3 separate regions of the Homo sapiens genome follow, and all the other regions are linked to region 3. A link means that fine-mapping ties the variant in region 3 to the expression of a gene that starts in the linked region. Tissue or cell type: whole blood. Region 3 holds a variant in brackets; each other region holds the start of a gene. All regions are shown on one strand. Distances are between the middles of the regions.

Region 1 (6,132 bases), 470 kb before region 3:
CAACCAAGAAGTGAATAAAATATTGTATTTTGACATCTTCAGACCTTTGAAGTCCAACAGATACTGCTTCTTTAGCCCCTTCTACAAAAAGACCCTTAGTTTTGAATATATTTTGAGAATTTAGAATCAACTCAGTTTTACCAGGAGCCAACAGGAGCAAGCTGAATAAAATGAGATGGCATTTTGGATTACATTAGTTATGGTACAGGTATTCGTTTCAAAAATCTCATTAAAGGCCAAGTGCAGTAATTTACCATATTCAGTATTAGCTTTATAATTCTGCAAATCAATGGGCCTAATATAAAAATAGGCACTTTGTAGCAGATAAAATTTAGAAAGATATTCAAATTGGTATAGTGAAAACTTTTAAATTTCTATTTACTAACATAATGTTGACTTGGAGAATCTATGAAAGTCAGGTTTTATGACAGAAGATGTCCAAGTCCACCTACCAGGGTTTAGTTCCATACATTCTCCAAAGGACAGTATTCTTAGAACTAAACTATAGATTTAGGCCATTTATTTAAACTTGGGCAACTTCAAACAAGCTTGAAACACAAGAGTGCCTTGAAAATAACTGTAAAAGTCATTTACTTCCCTTCGATTTTTAAATGGTACCCTATACATAAAAGGTTTTTCCCTTATTCAATCAAAGGTAATGTATATTACTTCCAAAGTATAGGAGTATTAATTTAAGCTGACCAAAAAAAGAGGACCCAGATACTCGTTTCCAAAGATGTTTTGAATCCACCTATTTTCAAAAGGCCAAATTTCATTTTACAGCTCTTGTGAAACCAGGCAAGCAGTGTAAATTTTAAAATGCAGCAGTGGGATATCTTCAAATGTAGCAGTGAGATTTTTAAAATGTAGTTGTTTCAAAACTGATCAGTGACCGTCTAAAATACGGGCTCCTTGAGGACATCCTGCGCCTGGTTCATCCTTTTTGCACTCTCAAAGTCTAGCCTTCCCAGATGGGACCTCAGTCCCAGCCCCCCTACACTGCCATCCCCCAGATCTTTAGGGCAGTAGGGTTCATTGACAAGGTTGCAGGCTACAAACTTGGCAAAGTTTATACTAACACCTCATTCCATCCCACCTCCCATCTTAAAAAGGAAACCGTTAAGTATCTTATTCTAGTGACTTCAATAAAGGAACTAATTTATAAGACAGCCAAGAACAATTAAAGTCATAAAGGGCCAAACATTTTATTTTCATCTAAGAACCGTTTGCAGGGGTGGTCCGATCTTTTGGCTTCCCTGGGCCACACTAGAACTGTCTTGGGCCACACGTAAAATACATTAACTAGCTGATGAGCTTTTTTTTCCAAAAAAAAAAAAAAAAAAAAAACCTCATGAATTTGTGTTGGGCCACATTTAAAGCCGTCCTGGGCCGCGGGTTGGACAAGCTTGGTTTAGGGGTTTAGATCGATCAGGATCAATACTCCCCAAATAAAAAACCCTGATCAAGACACCCATCTAACAGTACCTGGGAAACACAATAACAACCTTTTGCTAATAACAGTTAATATAAGCGCTATATACGCGTTAACTTTTTAAAATACTAGCAGTGGAGGCCCTTCCTTATCATCAGCTAACATCCACAATCTCTGGTACCAATAAAAAGATTAAGACCAAAGAGAAGCAGGGAAGAGTTTGAAACCCAGGGACAGGGCTTACTCGCTTACCCTTCCTTTTCACATTCCACCGTCTCTACAACTTTCAAAGTAAGCACAGACCGAGGGCAAGGGTCTCCAACCAGGCCCAGCCAGTGGCCATGAAGCCCATTACCACGTGTGGAGCGAAGCCGCCGGGGGTTTCCCCTCCCCGCGCGGCCGCCCCCAATGGGCGGAGAGCCCGGGAGCGTCGCAGCCTCCCCCGCCCCCTCCCCGCCTCGGGGACTCGTCCCTCCACAGCCCCTCCCTCCCGTCGGAATTCGCAGCCTCCGCCGTTCTTTTCATCTCCCAGCGGCCTCCCTCCTGGTATTATTTTTGAGGGAAAAGCAGGGGGGTGTCCAAGAGGCGGCCGGCTCTGCACTCGGCCCGGCCCGTACGCCGGGGGCCTCCCGGTCCTCGCGGCGCAGCCGAGTCTCAGGGCACCCGGGCGTCACCGCGGCCTCGCTCCGGTCCACGCGGAAAAGACGGTGGAGCTCAGAGAACCTTAGGCCTCCAGGCCGCGCCAACCCCTACGTCGCCTCAGCCGTCCCCGATAAAAGCGCTGGTCGGCCCCGGGGCCCCTCTCAGGCTCCGGGGTCCGGACTCCGCGGTCCTGTCCGACCTCACAGGACGACCCCGGAGGCCACGGGCGGCCAGCGGCCCCGACTCCCGGCTCCCAGTCCCTCCATCCCTCCGGCCCTCCCATCTGCGCAGGCCGCCCAGCCAACACCACGTTCCCCCTTCCCTTCCAGGCCCCCATCCGTTACCGGCGACTAGTATGGGGAGCCAGGCGGCCGGAGCTGCGCAGGCAGTGACTCAGGGCGGCAGCGGCAGCAGCAGCGGGAGGAGCAGGAGGCGGCGCCGCGAGCAGATGGCGCTAAAAAAGACCCAAGAGCCCGCCGCTCGCGCTCATATACAATTAGCGTCAGCACGTAGGGCCCTTTCGCCGCCCTCCTCCCGGCCTTGTAGTCTCCCAGCAACGCGAGCGAGAGGCGGGTCCAGGCCGGGTTGCCTAGCAACTGAACCGTCCTCCTTCCCCGGCGACCTCCATACCCCCACCGAGGACTCCTGCAGCCCCGAGGCCCAGGCGCCGCGCTTGGGCTCCTCTGGTTCCCGCCGGTGTCTAACCTCCTCTGTTAAGCACCCCACCATATCTTTTCTCCCTGCTGAGCCGGAAAGGAAATTTCAACCCCATCAGTTGTGGGGAAGGCCTGGCCCGCGTGCCCGGCGCCCGGCCCGCCCCGCCCCCTTCGGCGTTGTGCTGGGAACGCTCAGGGCTGGCGCCAGTCGCCTGGTCCCTCGCTCGCCGCAGCCTAGACGGCGGACGCTCCCTGTCAAGGCCTAATTCCTGCAACTCGCCGGCCCCCGGTAACCGTTTTCCTTCCCCGCCTAAGAAAAACAGTTTTTTCCTCTAGACCACTTCGGCGGCCTCTTCTGACAGTTTTGCTTCTCCTATGCCAGCGGGTCTCCGCGCCTTTAGGGGGTGCTCGTCATCCTTTGCCCCCCAACCCCCCGCCACATCCTCGTAACTGATGTACAGTCCGTCAGTTCGGCTTCAGTTCTTTTGACGGATGAAAATGGCATATTTGTGCATTCTCTGGATGCGTTATAATGAGGACACTCAGTACGTCCGTTGTTTCATCTTTCTGAAAAAGTAAATCACATTAAATCCTCAGGCTTGTAAAACCTCATAGCTAATTTTCAAGTGATGATGAATTGACTAATACTAACTCAAAAAGTTGTTCTCAGAGTATGGTCTGAGGGTCCCCAGACCCTTTCATGGGGAAGGTCAAAACTATTTCCATATTAATGTCAAGACTGCCTTTTGCATTCTCATTCTCTCACAAGTGTACAGTGGGGTTTTCCGGAGGCTACGTGACATGTGATAAGGAAACAGACTGAAAATAGAAGCAGATAGGAGAATCCAGTCATCTGCGGTTAAACCAGACGTTAAAGAGATTTGCAAAAACTCGATTTGGGGGCAAGGGGGAGTAGTTATTTTTCATATAAAAATTATTTTTTGTTAATATTTGATTGCTTTATTGTTTTTAAATGAAATACTCTTAAAATTTCTCACTTTTAATTTCTGATATAAATATCAGTATCAGTAATGCACATAAAAGTTCTTTGGGGTCCTCAACTTTTAAAGGAGTGTAAAGGAATCCTAAGACCACAAAGTTTGAGAACCTCTTCTCTAAATCTTGCATTTATTGAAACTTCAAACTGCCTAGAATCCCCTATTGTAATCCACACATTTAGCAACTTTATCTTCCGTTTTAGGGGATACAATGTTTTCCTTGGCCCTCCAGAACCTCATTGAAATTATTTGCCTTCCCACTCTATACTGCAGACGACTCTGTTTATTCATTCATTTTAGTTTTTCATATACAATTCCTTTGTTGTTCTCATAGCCTATTCCTGTACACCCTTCTCAACAATGATGTAATGATACAAGGAGCATAATAGCATCAATAATGGATCTTCAGGAAGAACCCACTATACATAAACAAGGTAGACCAGTGCTCAGTTTGAACATAAATTTGACACATTAATTTCAATAAGAACTTCAGGAATGTTGCATTTTAATCAAAGCTGTGCACGATGCAAGGTAATTAGCATATTAAAATGAACTAAATAACTTTCACTTTCTTTCCATAAATCTTTATGGTAGCAGAATTTCTGAGACAAAATTGAGAAGTTAGCTTTTGTGGTGGTTTTTATCCCACACCAGAGAGCCTCATCAATTTTCGGCACTTCGCTCATGAAGGCTCTGGATTTTTTAGGTTTCACCACCCCCCCACCAACCCCTATAACTTAGGTGTTATCATTACCAGTACATATGCTCTTTCCCCCTTTTCTCCAGCTTCCTCTTCTTTTTTCAGTGTATCCTAGCCAATCTAAGAAACTAAACAATAAAATATTTCTAATAATGCATGCCTTTGTAATATAGTCTTTTGAACCAGTTTGTAAATCTAAGTCTTTGCCATTAAAGTTCAGGGAAGGGCAGACATTTATGCATTCATTCAACAAATATTTATGTCAGGCACAACTTCGGACTCTGGAAATACAGCATTTAGTAAGAAAGACACGGTTCTTGATTTTATTGAAGTTATGGTCTAGTGAGGTGAGGCAAATGATTAGAGATAAAATAATTTTACTAATAAAATATTAGTAATAAAACAATTTCACTTATCAATAATAAATAATTGATAAGTGAATGCTATAAAGAAAATAAAATGAGAAAAGGGGTAGGAGGTGACTGACCTGAAGATACCTTTGAGCTTTTTTTTTTTTTTTTTTTCGACGGAGTCTCACTCTGTTGCCCAGGCTGGAGTGCAGTGGCGCGATCTCGGCTCACTGCAACTTCTGCCTCCCGGTTTCAAGCAATTGTCCTGCCTCAGCCTCCCGATTAGCTGTGACTACAGGCAGGCGCAACCACGCCCAGCTAGTTTTTTTGTGTTTTTAGTAGAGATGGGGTTTCACCATGCTGGTCAGTCTGGTCTCGAGCTCCTGACCTCAAATGATCCGCCTGCCTCAGCCTCCCAAAGTGCCGGGGTTACAGGTGTGAGCCTCTGCATCCGGCCACCTTTGAGCTTTTTACATTGGCCCCTCTTATACCCCCAAATCACACAATGTAGTTAACTCATCTAACTTAATTGCAATAAATGGTGACCCTGGTCACTGATCTTGGGCCATGCGAAATTTTCTGTTGCAGTTCCTTTTCTCATGCTCTCTTTGGAAGCATATATACTAAAATTAAAGGTCCTTTTTTCTCTATCTCCCATGATTTTCATTTGGTAGACTTTTATAGCATTGTAGCCTGGAGGCTTAGAGGGGTGGCTTTGGAGTCAAACAGCCTATTTTGTCCCCATTTTTCTACCACTTAATAGCTGTGTAACTTTGGATAAGTCAGTTAGCCATCCCAGGTTTCATTTTCCACATCTGTAAAATGGGGAAAATAAGCATGCATTTTTCATAGGGCTGTTGTGAAACTTAAAAAAATTTTTTTTTTTTTAAGTCAAGAGGGATCTTGGTATATTACCCAGGCTGGTCTTGAACTCCTGGACTCAAGAGATCCTCCCACTTCAGCCTCCCAAAGTGTTGGGATTACAGGCATGAGCCACCTTGCCCAGCTGTGAAACTTTTGGAGACAGAGTCTCACTCTGTCACCCAGGCTGAGGTGCAGTGGCGCAATCTCGGCTTACTGCAACCTCTGCCTCCCATGTTCAAACAATTCTTGTGCCTCAGCCTCCCAAGTAGCTGAGACTGCAGGTGCGCGCCACCACATCCCACTAATTTTTTTGTATTTTAGTAGAGATGGGGTTGCACAATGCCCAGGCTGGTCTCAAACTCTTGAGCTCAGACAATCCACCCGCCTCGGCCTCCCAAAGTGCTAGGATTACAGGTGTAAGCCACTGTGCCTGGCTCAGCTGTGAAACTTTAAATAACACATTTAAGTTGCTTAACATAATGCCTGACAT
Region 2 (6,132 bases), 210 kb after region 3:
CGCAGTGGCTCACGCCTGTAATCCCAAGATTTTGGGAGGCCGAGGTGGGTGGATCACGAGGTCAGGAGTTCGAGACCAGCCTGACCAACATGGTGAAACCCCATCCCTACTAAAAATACAAAAATTAGCAGGGCATGGTGGCGCGCCCTTAATCCCAGCTACTCAGGAGGCTGAGGCAGGAGAATCGCTTGAATCTGGGAGGCAGAGGTTGCAGTGACCTGAGATCTCGCCACTGCACTCCAGCCTGGGCCGCAGAGCAAGAAAGACTCCGTCTCAAAAAAAAAAAAAAAAAAAAAATTGAGATTTTTGGCTGGGTGCGGTGGCTCACGCCTGTAATCCTAGCAATTTAGGAGGCAGACGCGGGTGGATCACCTGAGGCCGGCAGTTCCAGACCATCCTGACCAACATGGAGAAACCCTGTCTCTACTAAAAATACAAAATTAGCCGGGCATGGTGGCGCATGTCTGTAATCCCAGCTACTTGGGAGGCTGAGGCAGGAGAATCGCTTGAACCTGGGAGGTGGTGGTTGCAGTGAGCCGAGATCGAGCCATTGCACTCCAGCCTGGGCATGAGTGAAACTCAGTCTCAAAAAAAAAAAAAAAATTGAGATTTTTGAGTGAAAATGACTTATGTCCATGTTAACATATGACTGAAAACAATTCGATGCTCCAAGGGCCGACCCTGAGACTATCTAGCTGTAAAAGATGACTCCTAGTTTGGGCCAGGACGAACAGAATGAAAATCAGCTCGGACTGAAATGAGAAAAAGTAGTTGTGCTGGGAGGACAGATACAGAAAAAGCCAGCAGCAAAGTTAACTGAGAAACTTCTTTCTCCCACAGCCGTGCAGTAGCTATGACACGCCATATTCACCCCTCTTTGAGTAACTGCTGCTCTTACTAGTGTTGCTACTTTATTACTGGAGGTACCTAATTACTAAATTGCTGTATCCTCAAGACAGCATCCAATCCCTCGTAAATCCCAGCTTTTCTTCATGCCGCCACGGAAACGGCGTCCCATGCAGAACTGATTCTGGCTCTCCTTAGACCCTCCTCAGACTCCTTTGGCGGGAAACTAATCTTACAAAGGAGGCTTCCTCTTTCCTTTTCCAGTGGCATTCCAAGCTTCCTTTGGAGTGCCCTCCCTCCTGATTTACAAATTGGCCTGACGTTATCGGAGTACAGGCTTTTTCCTGGTGGTTTCTGGCCTAACAGGAGACAGATTAGTAAGTACCAGGATCTCTAATAGGTCAACTTTCATGATCTCTGCTAAATTCTCAGCTGTTTAGACTTACAATTTTTAACAGCTAAAAGGAAAGACAAATGCTATCTAAAACTGTCCCATCAGCCCATTTACAGGGAGCACCTCCCCCATACCGCCCTAAAATCCTTTAAAAAATGGCTTTAGTCATTTTATCTGCCTTGCATTTAAGCGAATTCAGTTTAAGTGGCTTCAGTTCTGAATTCCTGGATTATATCGAAATGTTGCAGATGGCGGTGTGTGGGCTTTGAGCTCGTAAATTTTTTGTGTGGTACTAATTCAAGACGATTGAGAGCAGGTTGGGATCATTTTAAAAAGAGTTCTCGGCAGGGTGTGGTGACTCAAGCCTGTAATCCCAGCACTTTGGGAGGCCGAGGCGGGCGGATCGCTTAAGGTCAGGAGTTCGAGACTAGCCTGGCCAACATGGTGAAAACCCGTCTCTACTAAAAATACAAAAATTAGCCGGGCGTGGTGGCGTGCACCTGTAATTCCAGCTACTCGGGAGGCTGAGGCAGGAGAATCGCTTGAACCGGGAGGCAGAGGTTGCAGTGAGCTGAGATCGCGCCATTGCACTCCCGCCTGGGCGGCAAGAGCAAAACTCTGTCTCATTAAAAAAAAAAAAAAAAAAAAAAAAAAAAAAAAAAGGGTTCTCTAGTAGGAAGTCCCGAGTTGTATCCATGTTTTTCCGGGCGTCCCCCGGAGGGACAGGTTGCGGGTGACCTTTTCAAGTGTGGAGGAAAGGGAAGCTGCTTTTGTCTTCAGGAATGATGCAGGTCTCGACTCAAGCCTGACGGGCCCAAACCTCCCTGGAGCTGGCTGACGACTCTGCCCGAGTTCCTGAAGAGGGGTCCCGGGGGTCCCGGAGCGGAAGTGGGAGCGCGTGGGCGTGGGCTCCTCGGCTGCCTGGGGCTCCAGACTTGTGCTGCGTGCGGCTCCGGAGCTCTGTTCTCGCTCCTGAGCAGCTGCTAGGTTTCCCAAGCGACTGTCTCAACCGCCCGGCCGCCTCCCCCGGGCAGCCAGAGCTTCACATCTACCTCCAGCCGGGACCCGCCCCCGAGCCGCGGGGCCCACGCCCAGAGCCCTCCGCCGTCCCCAGCGCAGTGCAGCAGAGCGCGATCCAGTCTGGGGCCGGGCCGCGCTTCCGCGCACGCGCGGAGAAACCCGCGCCCTCCGAGGGGGGAGGGGACAGAGGGGGCGTCACGGGGGCAGGAGAAGAAGGAGGAGGAGGCCCGCGTCGCCTCCGGCGGGGCTCGCGCTCGCCCCGCGCTCGCCCTCCGCCTCGCCCGAGCCCCGGGAGGGTGAAACGCTTTCTCCCAGCATGCAGCGGGAGGAGGGATTTAACACCAAGATGGCGGACGGCCCGGATGAGTACGATACCGAAGCGGGCTGTGTGCCCCTTCTCCACCCAGAGGTGAGGAACCGTGCTGAGTGGATTCCTTGCCCTGCGGCCCTCCAGCCTTTCTTCCCCGGACTCGCCGAGGGCGGCGGCCGACGTGTGTGGGGTAGTGGGACGTGCCGAAGTTGGGGAGGGTGGGGAGGCGAATCCAGGCCTGAGCGCGGCTGCGAGCGGATAACGGGGGAGGAGATAGCGGGGCGGGCCCGACCGGGGCGGGCTCTGGGACGCAGTCCCTGGCTGTGCCTGGAGGACAGAGGTGGAGGTGTTGATGGTTCTGCTGTGTCGCCGCGCTGCGTTTGAGAGCAGAGGCGGAGGGGCCTGGTGTGGTTTTTGAACCGCAGCTTAGACCCTAGTCTTGCTCCAAGCCTCTTGGGGCCAGGTGGAAGCGCGTCTGGTTTTGATTTCTTTTTCCTTCGCCAGGGTGAATGACGGTATCTATTGCTTCCTTTTAGTCCACTGTGAGGGGACAGTTTCATGGGCATAGTGATGTCCTTCCAGGTAATGCCATGGGTAGCACCTCGGGCACCTTGTGTCGGGCGTCCTTTTTTGAGCATTTGTCCTTAAGCGATTAAGAAGAGAGGTAAAAACTTTTGGGAATAGACTTACACTCACATTAGCTTGTCAAAGTACCGTTTTTCTAGGAGCTAGGGGTGGACAGTGCAACACGTTTCCCATCACAACATGAGTGTCTTCCCATGTAAGTAAACAGTGCCCCGCTCCACAGTCAGTCAGTCTGTGCTTGTTTACCTCCGAGTTTGTAGCTGAGCTAGTGCTAGTTAAGGCTTGGAAGCAATTCTTGATGCATTCTGATTTTTAGTGATCCACAGTGATGTCTGTATGCGGCAGCGGCACAGTTTGCTGAAGAACTCGGGTAGTTTTCATGAGGTTAAAAGATGACAGTCGTGTTGTAGGATGAACAAACATGGAAGTCTCTACCTGGTTACTTTGCAATGGAGTGATTCTGTTTTTTTCTGGATTTGGGTTTGTACCATGCCACTAGTTTTTGTTAAAAAGTGAATAATGACAACCATCCTTTTATGTTGCATGTTAACACTCAACCACCCTCTCATTCGTCACTTTGGTTTATCAAAAACACATGGGACAGTTCCTTCGGAATATATACCTGTGCCAGTCTCAGTAGAAAAGGCTACTCTGGGTTTCTGATAAACAGAACTATACAGTAAGACTAAACACTTGTCTGACCAAAGTGGTAACATTTTCAGAACTGGCATTGTAGACATCTCTTTTGGTTCACTTAGGCCCTAACATACGTCAGGAAATAGACAAAGTAGTTTTCAGATGTTGCCTTGAAAATGTTGCTAAGTGATTTCTATTCATCTGTTCCTGTGAAAGTATTCGTGAAAGTATTTCAAACACTTAAGTGTTTATCCAGTTTATTTTTTTGAGACGGGGTTTCTCCCTGTCCCCCAGGCAGGAGTGCACTGACACGATGACAGCTCACTGCAGCCTCTACCTCCAGGGCTCAAGTGATCCTCTCCCCTCAGCCTCCTGAGTAGCTGTGACCACAGGCTCGCGCCACCATACCCGGCTGATTTTTTTATTATTTGTAGAAGAAGAGGTCTCCCTATGTTGTCTAGGCTGGTCTTGAACTCTTGAACTCAAGTGGTCCTCTCACCTTAGCTACTTAAAGTGCTGGGATTACAGGCATGAGCCACCATGCCAGGCCTATCTTACGTATTTTAGCATACTGTTCTTCATAAACCTTTGCTTTGTAATATAGTACTGTTGTTTGCTACTTTAAGAATAATTTTAACTGGCAACAAATCCAGATTATTTGGTGTAGTAGAATGGCCAGTATAGGCTTGAAATTTAGCTACCGATCTTCAGGTTGCCATTCGATAGATAGGATATTACTAGAAAGTCAACCTCCTCATCATTGATAGTGGGAATTGGCATACATAATATATACCGTTCCTTTTTACCCAAGAAGCACAAGGTCTGATTATTTTAATACTTTGGATGGACCTTAAGCTTGTACTACATGGCTGAGGTCTTTCTGCATTTTCTGTGGTTAGTGTGTGCAGCTGGTGCAGACCTGGGGTAGTTCTGCTGCCTCCTAGCAGTGTGTTCTTGGGCAAGCTATGAATACGTCTCTGAGTTCTAGTTTCATCATTTATAATGGATAAAAATAATAGTTAATAAGCTATAGCGAGGATTAACTGAGATAATATGTTTTTGTTGTTAAAATAAGCAGTGTTTTCAGTCTCCTTTGGGAAGAAACCCATTCTCTGTCTTGGTAAGTAATGAAATAATAGTACTTTTAACCTCTTTTTGGAGAGAACATAGACTTTGGGTCAGACAGACTTGGATTCTAATTCTGGAAATTCGGTAACTAGCTAAGTGACCTGAGACAAGTGCTTAATTTCTTTAAGCTTCAGTTGTAATCAGAAAATGGAGATCCTGGCTGGGCTCGGAGGCTCACACCTGTAGTCCCAGCACTTTGGGAAGCCGAGGTGAGAGAATCACTTGAGCCCAGGAGTTCGAGACCATCCTGGGCAACATGGCAAAACTCTGTGTCTACAGAAAATACAAAAATTAGCTGAGCATGGTGGTACACGCCTGTAGTCCCAGCTAATCGGATGCTGAGGTGGGAGGATTGCTTGAGCCTGGAAGGTTGAGGCTGCAGTGAGCCATGATCGAGCAGCTGTACTCCATCCTGGGTGACAGAGCAAGATTATGTCTCAAAAAAAAAAAAAAAAGAAAAGAAAAGAAAATGGAGATGCTGCCTAGTTTACTTGGCTGTAAGGGATTAAGTGAGGCTATATGTTGAGGGTCAAGAACTGGCACATTGTAGGTGCTCAGTTAATGTTACTTCTTTTTTCTCTACCAGAAGAAAGGGAAGTGTTACACATTTATTTTGGTTTTGGTGACTGATTTAAAACTTATGTGGGTTTTAATTTAGTGGAATAGGATCTTGCAGGAACAAATTTCATTTCACTTTTTATCTTCCAATTTAATACTCTCACACAAAAACAGTTTTTCACTTTAGTATTTGTTAAGCAGATGAATTATTTGTGGGTAAAGAAATGAGCATTGCTTAAATCTCTTATTAGTATGCAAACTGCCCACTGTTAAAACCTTTCTTAGAGGATTATACAATTAGATAAACGCCTTTTTAGAGGTATTTTAGGTAAGATAATCTTACTTTTTAATGAATTAAATCATCCACTCATTTAGTTGGTCATTTAAACATTTGTTTGTCATGTTTGGGTAAGGAATTGTGCTGGAGTCTGTGTGAGACTTCAGGATATTTTTGGTGTTCAGTGAGAGGCAGTGTAGAATACTGGTTAAGAGCCAAAGTTGGCTGGGCGTGGTGGCTCACGCCTGTAATCCCAGGGTTTAGGGAGGCCGAGGCGGGCGGATCACCTGAGGTTCGGAGTTCAAGACCAACCTGACCAACATGGAGAAACCTTGTCTCTATTAAAAATACAAAATTAGCCATGCGTGGTGGCACATG
Region 3 (6,132 bases):
TCTGTTTCTTCTGTTTATGAAGCTAGAAGAAGACTTCTAATAAAAGATGGGGCGCTAAATACAAACTTTCCCTTCAGTTACTCCAGATACTCCACTGAAATAAAAACAACTCATAAAAGAAAGAAAATCGTAACAGTAAAGAAATTAAAATTGAGGCTAGAAAGAAAATCCAACAAATTTCTGGGAAATGAAAGTATATGTGAGATTGATAGAAATAACAAGCGGAAAAAGCCACAGCCTCATTATAACCTTTAAGAGTGACATGGAAAGGATGGGAACCAATACGTCTGAGAAGATCCCCAGGAAAGCATGATTATAAAGTAAATGGTACAGCAGAGGGTGGAAATAAATAGTAGGGTTAAAAATAAGAGAACTGAGTATTACTTGACTAACTATAAGGGACAGCTATATCTCCCATCCCCTATTTCCAAGCAGTTTCTAAACAACTGACATTTTACCTCCAGGCAAAAAAACAAGTCAGCTTTTCCCTAAAGAAAGTGAACCACTATCTAGGGAAAGCTAAGCGGAGGTGTGGCACAGAGTAAACACATCTCATCCAGCATTTAAAGGGCCCATACATAGCCTAGCAGCTAGCTCCTCTCTCTTTTACCCTAAAACAATCTGCCAAGAGACAGATCCTACTCTGTACTACCTTGCCCCACAAAGTGCTCTGGCCAGAATTCCTACTCAAAGAAAAAAAAATCTAATAGGGAAAACAGTCCAAGGAACAGGGGAGGGAGGGTGACCAGGAACCTAGTCTGTCTTTCTTAACCATGAATGGACAACCAAGAATTATCAGGCACATAAGGAAAACTGAGCATGAAAAAAGAATGATTACAAAAACAAACATAAAAACTGACCGGAGGAGAAAAGGAGATAAATTAGACACAAGGAGACACAAGGTATCTTTAAAAAAATCTAATTTGCACATTCTAAGACTCAAGACGACAATACAACATAGTGTAAAAATGGTGGGAAAAGAAAAAGAGAACAACAAAACTTACAGATTACCCCCAGGAAAATCAGCCAAAATACTAAAGGGGAAAAAAAACCCACAAAATATAAAAGATGAGAGAAGGAAGATCAAGACAGAAAGCAACTGCCTACTGAAAAGCAAAAAACATGATGAAGGGAGGAAATTATTAAAGACAGAGAAGAGTTTCCTGGAATTGGAAAAATAATCTGATTCAGACTGTAAGAGCAACTGAGTATCTAGACAAACAGCCAAACAAAACAAAAATGACCTATACACCTCATTATGACTTTGTAGAAGATACAAAAGAACGGATTCTAAAAGTTTTCAGACAGAATAAAGAACAAATCACCTTAAAAGGATAGTGAATCAGACTGATACATGACTCCTTCTTTTTTTCTTTTGAGACGGAGTCTCACCCAGGCTAGAGTGCAGTAGTTTGATCTCGGCTCACTGCAACGTCCACCTCCCAGGTTCAAGTGATTCTCCTGCCTCAGACTCCTAAGTAGCTGGGATTACAGGCACCTGCCACCATGCCCAGCTAATTTTTAGTAGAGACAGGGTTTCACTATGTTGGCCAGGCTGGTCTCAAACTCTTGACCTCATGATCCACCCGCCTCGGCCTCCCAAAGTGCTGGGATTACAGGCGTTGATGTATGACTTCTAATCAGCATCCCTAGATGCTAGAAGACAACAAAGCAATCCTTTCAGGGTTCTAAAGGAAAATTATTTCTAACTAACAATATTGTACCCAGCCAAATTATCAATCATTTGTGAGAATAGAATGGAGACTTTTTTACACAGAATTCGGAAAGTTTGCCTCTCATACATACTTCTTTTTCAAAGAGTTATTTGAAGATGTACTCCAATAAACAGATCAAGCAGATGCAAAAAAAAAAAAGGAAAAAAAAATATGTATAACAGAATGGATCCAATTCAAGAGTAAGGAGAAAGGAAGTTACAAGAAAAGACCTAGAAGAGTCCAAATGGAGGCAGAGTTACAGACAAATACAGATAAATAGAGAATGCAGCACAAAAGGCAGTATGCTGAAGAGTTGGGGTGTGGGGGGGCTGGGGTGTAGGGGAGGCTATAATAGAGGCATATAGTACAAGAAAAGAGGGCAATTTAAGACACTAAGAAAAACAGGAAGTCCTATTCAAAAACTTTTTTAATTCCAAAGTTAGATTTTGGTCATATCCAAATTTTTTTTTAATTTGATGGTCAGAATTGATAAAATAAATAAAGTCTACTAATTCTCTATATTATCAACATGTTTCTTCTGGCAGCCCAGGGACAGAAAAGGAATAATCATCTAAGCACATTATCTGGCTTAGCATTAAATAATACTTACACAGTCATGGTATCAACACTATTTATTGGTTTTCATAATTTAGAGACAACCTGTGGACATGACAGCTGAGATTACAGGGGAAAAAACGTGTATTTGTTTAGGCCAGGGGTGTCCAATCATTTGGCTTCCCTGGACCACACTGGAAGAGAAGAATTGTCTTGGGCCACCCATAAAATACACTAACACTAACAATAGCTGATGAGCTTTAAAAAACAAAAAAATCTCCTTATGTTTTAAGAAAGTTTATGAATTTGTGTTGGGCCGCATTCAAAACTGTCCTGGGCCGTGCGCAGCTCACCAGCCAGGGATTGGACAAGCTTAGTCTAGCCAATAAAAAGTACAGCTACTGGTTTAGAAGAAATAATCACAAGGTAATAAATGGAAAATTCAAGTAATTTCTAAAGCTGATAAAGAGAAAGGTGAATCAACATTAAGGCTGGGTACCAGGGTTCATGCCTGTAATCCCAACATTTTGGGAGGCAGGAGTTCAAATTCAGCCTATGCAAAATAGCGAAACCCTGTCTGTACAAAAAAAATAAAGTAGCCAGCCACAGTGGCACAAACCTGTAGTCCTAGCTACTGGGGAAGGTGAGGCAGGAGGATCCTTTGAGCTCAGGAATTCTGCACTCCAGCCTGGAGTGCAGGAGACAGGAGGAGACTCTGTCACTCAAAAAATAATACAAACATATATATAGTATATCAAGGAAGAGAGGAAAACACACACACACACACTAGAAACTAGGATGTTTTATAA[AAAC/A]AACATAGCTTCCTTTATTGGATATACAGAAATGAACTGCTCCCCATGAACCTTACCCAACCCCTAAAAGGGGAAAAAGTTCTTTAATTAAGGATAATAGTTTCTTTCCATTTAAAATCATTTCTTTCAGATTCACTCATTCACTCAATCTTTAAAGCAGTAGTTCTCTACTGAGAGTGACCTTGTCCCCAGGGAACATCTGGCAATATCTTGAAACATTTTTCATTGTCACAATTAAGAAAGATGGTACTAGCATCTAGTGAGTAGAGGCCAGGGATGGTGCTATACATTCTACAATGCACAGGAACACACAACAAAGAATTATCCAGCCCAAAATATCAACAGAGTCAAGTTAAGAAACCCTACTTTAAGAAAACTCTTCAGACTTGTATAGATTTTCTCTGTTCCTCATTCTTATCATGGTGACTGGGCGTAAGATAAAGCTTTCATGGGCATCTGGAGTATTATGATTAGCCTGAATACAGACCCATGGATTGCCCTGGGGATCCTCACAGGCCTCTAAGGTTTGAATATTGGCCCTCACAGAGTCACAATGGCACATGCTGATGAATATGTTGGAACAGTATCCAGAGGATCTCCTAACTTGGCCCCACCCACCTCAGCTCCTGCTGGTACGGATATTATTACAGTCTCGACTACCTCGTCTATCCAGTCCCTGGCTTATACTTAAGGCAACACTAGCTGCTTAACAAATAAACCCCAGATTTTCGGTAGCTTCACACAATTAAAATTTCTCATTAATATTACAATCCATTGTGGGTATTCCTATTTGGTACACAAATTTCTTTCACATGGTAAATTTAGGGACTGTAGAACATTCCAATCTTATGGTTTTACTATCCCTTAAGAGCCTAAACCTCTGCATCTGGCCCTTGAATTAGAAAAGAGAAGGTGAAGAAAGAATACCTATTTTTTCTGCCACTTCAACCCAGAAGTGACAACAAATTGATTTCTATTCACATTCACTAGTGAAAAACTAGTGGCAGGCACAGTGGCTCACACCTGTAATGCCAGCACTTTGGGAGGCTGAGGCGGGCAGATCGCTTGAACTCAGCAGTTAGAGACCAGCCTGGGCAACATGGTGAAACCCCATCTCTACCAAAAATACAAAAAATTTGCCAGGCACGGTGGCACATCCCTGTAGTACCAGCTACTCGGAAGGCTAAGGCACAAGAATCACTTGAGCCCAGGAGGCGAAGGTTGCAGTGAGCCAAGATCCTGCCACTGCACTCTGGCCTGAGCAACAGAGCGATACCCCATGTCTCCAAAAAAAAAAAAAAAAAAAAAAAAAAAATGTTGCAAGCAAGAGGGAGCACAAATTTTTGTGGGCAATGAAATGAATCTGCCCTTCCCACAACCTCTGTCTACTACATGGTCCCTCCCTCACAATAGCAGCCTAATGACAGGCTTCCTGGCTCTCACTCTACTAACTTCTATTTCCTTCACTAGTCATATGTGAGAACATCCAGATCTCTTTCAGACCATGTAAGAACCATGGAAAACTCACAGAGTGCTATCTCTGGCCCCCTCTCTGCTTAAATATGCCATTTTCTTCCCTTTTGGCCACCCCAAGTCAGCATAGGGCCAGTGCAATAGGCTAGTAAGTGGCTGTACCAGTTCTGAACTTTGGCAGTCTGGCTCCAGGGTTCGTGCTATTCTGCCTCTCCAGATTTCTAAAATAGGTGATAAGACAGAGCACTTCCATTACTACCAATGGATATTTGTAAAGCACCTACATCTTGCAAAACAGCCTAGAACTATTACAAACTCCACACTATGATGCACAGCACTGCTTTTCTTTACTTCCAAATTGCTGATCTTACAAGTTATTATAATCATAACAATGCACAAAATTACACACTAAGCAAAGCTAGTCTCCAGAAGTCCCTCATCCTACTCTCCACTTGAACAATGTACCTGTGCCCTCACATCCAAAGCACCCCACCTCATTACTCTACCCGGTAATAATGTTACTTAGATTGAACTTCTCTCTCTCCAGATCTACCATACTTCCATCCCATCAAAATATACCAACATAGATTCCATAATTTCCACATGGGCCCCAGCCTTCCTTGTAAAAAATTATGTAATCTGACAAACTATTCCTGCTAATATGTAGGCATTTGGCAGCCAAAAAGCAAAAATTACCTTACTGGTGGTCATCTCAACAGGACAGATTTCAACTGTACAGATCTGTGTCCCTCAAATATCACTAAATAGGCCTGGCATGGCAGCTCACATCTATAATCCCAGCACTTTGGGAGACCAAGGTGGGAGAATCATTTGAGGCTAGGGGTTCAAGACCAAGCTGGGCAACATAGTGAGACTCTGTTTCTAAAAAAAAAAAAAAAAACTTAAAAATTAGCCAGGTGTGATGGTATTCGCCTGTAGTCCCAGCTACTTGGGAGGCAGAGACAGGAGGATCACTTGAGCCTGGGAGGTCGAGGCTGCAGTGAGCCATGGTAGTGAGTGCCACTGCACTCCAGCCTAGGTGACAGCTCAAGACCCTGTATCAGAAGAAAAAAAAAAAAGGCCAGAGGAGGTAGCTCACGCCTGTAATCTCAACACTTTGGGAGGACGAGGCAGGTGGATCACTTTACGTCAGGAGTTCGAGAACAGCCTGGCCAATATGGTGAAACCCCATCTCTACTAAAAATACAAAAAATTAGCTGGGCATGGTGGCATGCACCCGTAATCCCAGCTACTCAGGAGGCTCAGGCATGAGAATCACTTGAAACCGGGAGGCAGAGGTTGCAGTGAGCCAAGATCACACTACTGCACTCCAGCCTAGGTGACACAGTGAGACTCTATCTCAAAAAAAAAAAAAAAAAAACACTAAAAAAAAATGCATACCAATTCTGTGAATCAGCCTTATTCTTTAAAACTATTTTTTAATTATAACAACTTAGCTTTAAATACTGTTATCTATTATGTTCTTTAATTTCCAGTTACTCCGAAATTCTCTGAAATTCCCCAGTGAGAAAATGGCAACTGGATGAACAATAAAATAAATATTTGCTTTACTCTAA

Evidence for each region. PIP is the estimated chance that this variant, and not a neighbour inherited with it, causes the effect.
Region 1: it holds the start of NAP1L1, and the variant in region 3 is fine-mapped to the expression of NAP1L1 in whole blood (TOPMed, PIP above 0.99).
Region 2: ZDHHC17 starts here. The variant in region 3 is fine-mapped to the expression of ZDHHC17 in whole blood (TOPMed, PIP above 0.99).

What each region holds. Positions count from the first base shown.
Region 1 is chr12:76,082,149-76,088,280 of GRCh38, forward strand. It overlaps NAP1L1 (nucleosome assembly protein 1 like 1), which reads right to left and starts at 2,537. Exons shown (of 15, transcript NM_004537.7): 1 at 2,419-2,537. It overlaps LOC124902970 (a long non-coding RNA gene), which reads left to right and starts at 2,937. Exons shown (of 2, transcript XR_007063379.1): 1 at 2,937-3,019; 2 at 4,063-4,585. RefSeq lists silencers at 1,852-1,921, 1,972-2,031, 2,102-2,151, 2,292-2,371, 2,812-2,971 and an enhancer at 2,267-2,808.
Region 2 is chr12:76,761,661-76,767,792 of GRCh38, forward strand. ZDHHC17 (zDHHC palmitoyltransferase 17) reads left to right here and starts at 2,455. Exons shown (of 17, transcript NM_015336.4): 1 at 2,455-2,669. The coding sequence starts at 2,577. RefSeq lists enhancers at 1,953-2,052, 2,349-2,643, 2,619-3,461, 2,653-2,802 and a silencer at 2,193-2,602.
Region 3 is chr12:76,548,060-76,554,191 of GRCh38, forward strand. The region is part of intron 1 of OSBPL8 (oxysterol binding protein like 8); the gene reads right to left. Among named protein-coding and RNA genes, the nearest start is that of OSBPL8, 8.6 kb to the right of the region's middle. The variant AAAC/A (reference allele first, on the strand shown) is at 3,080.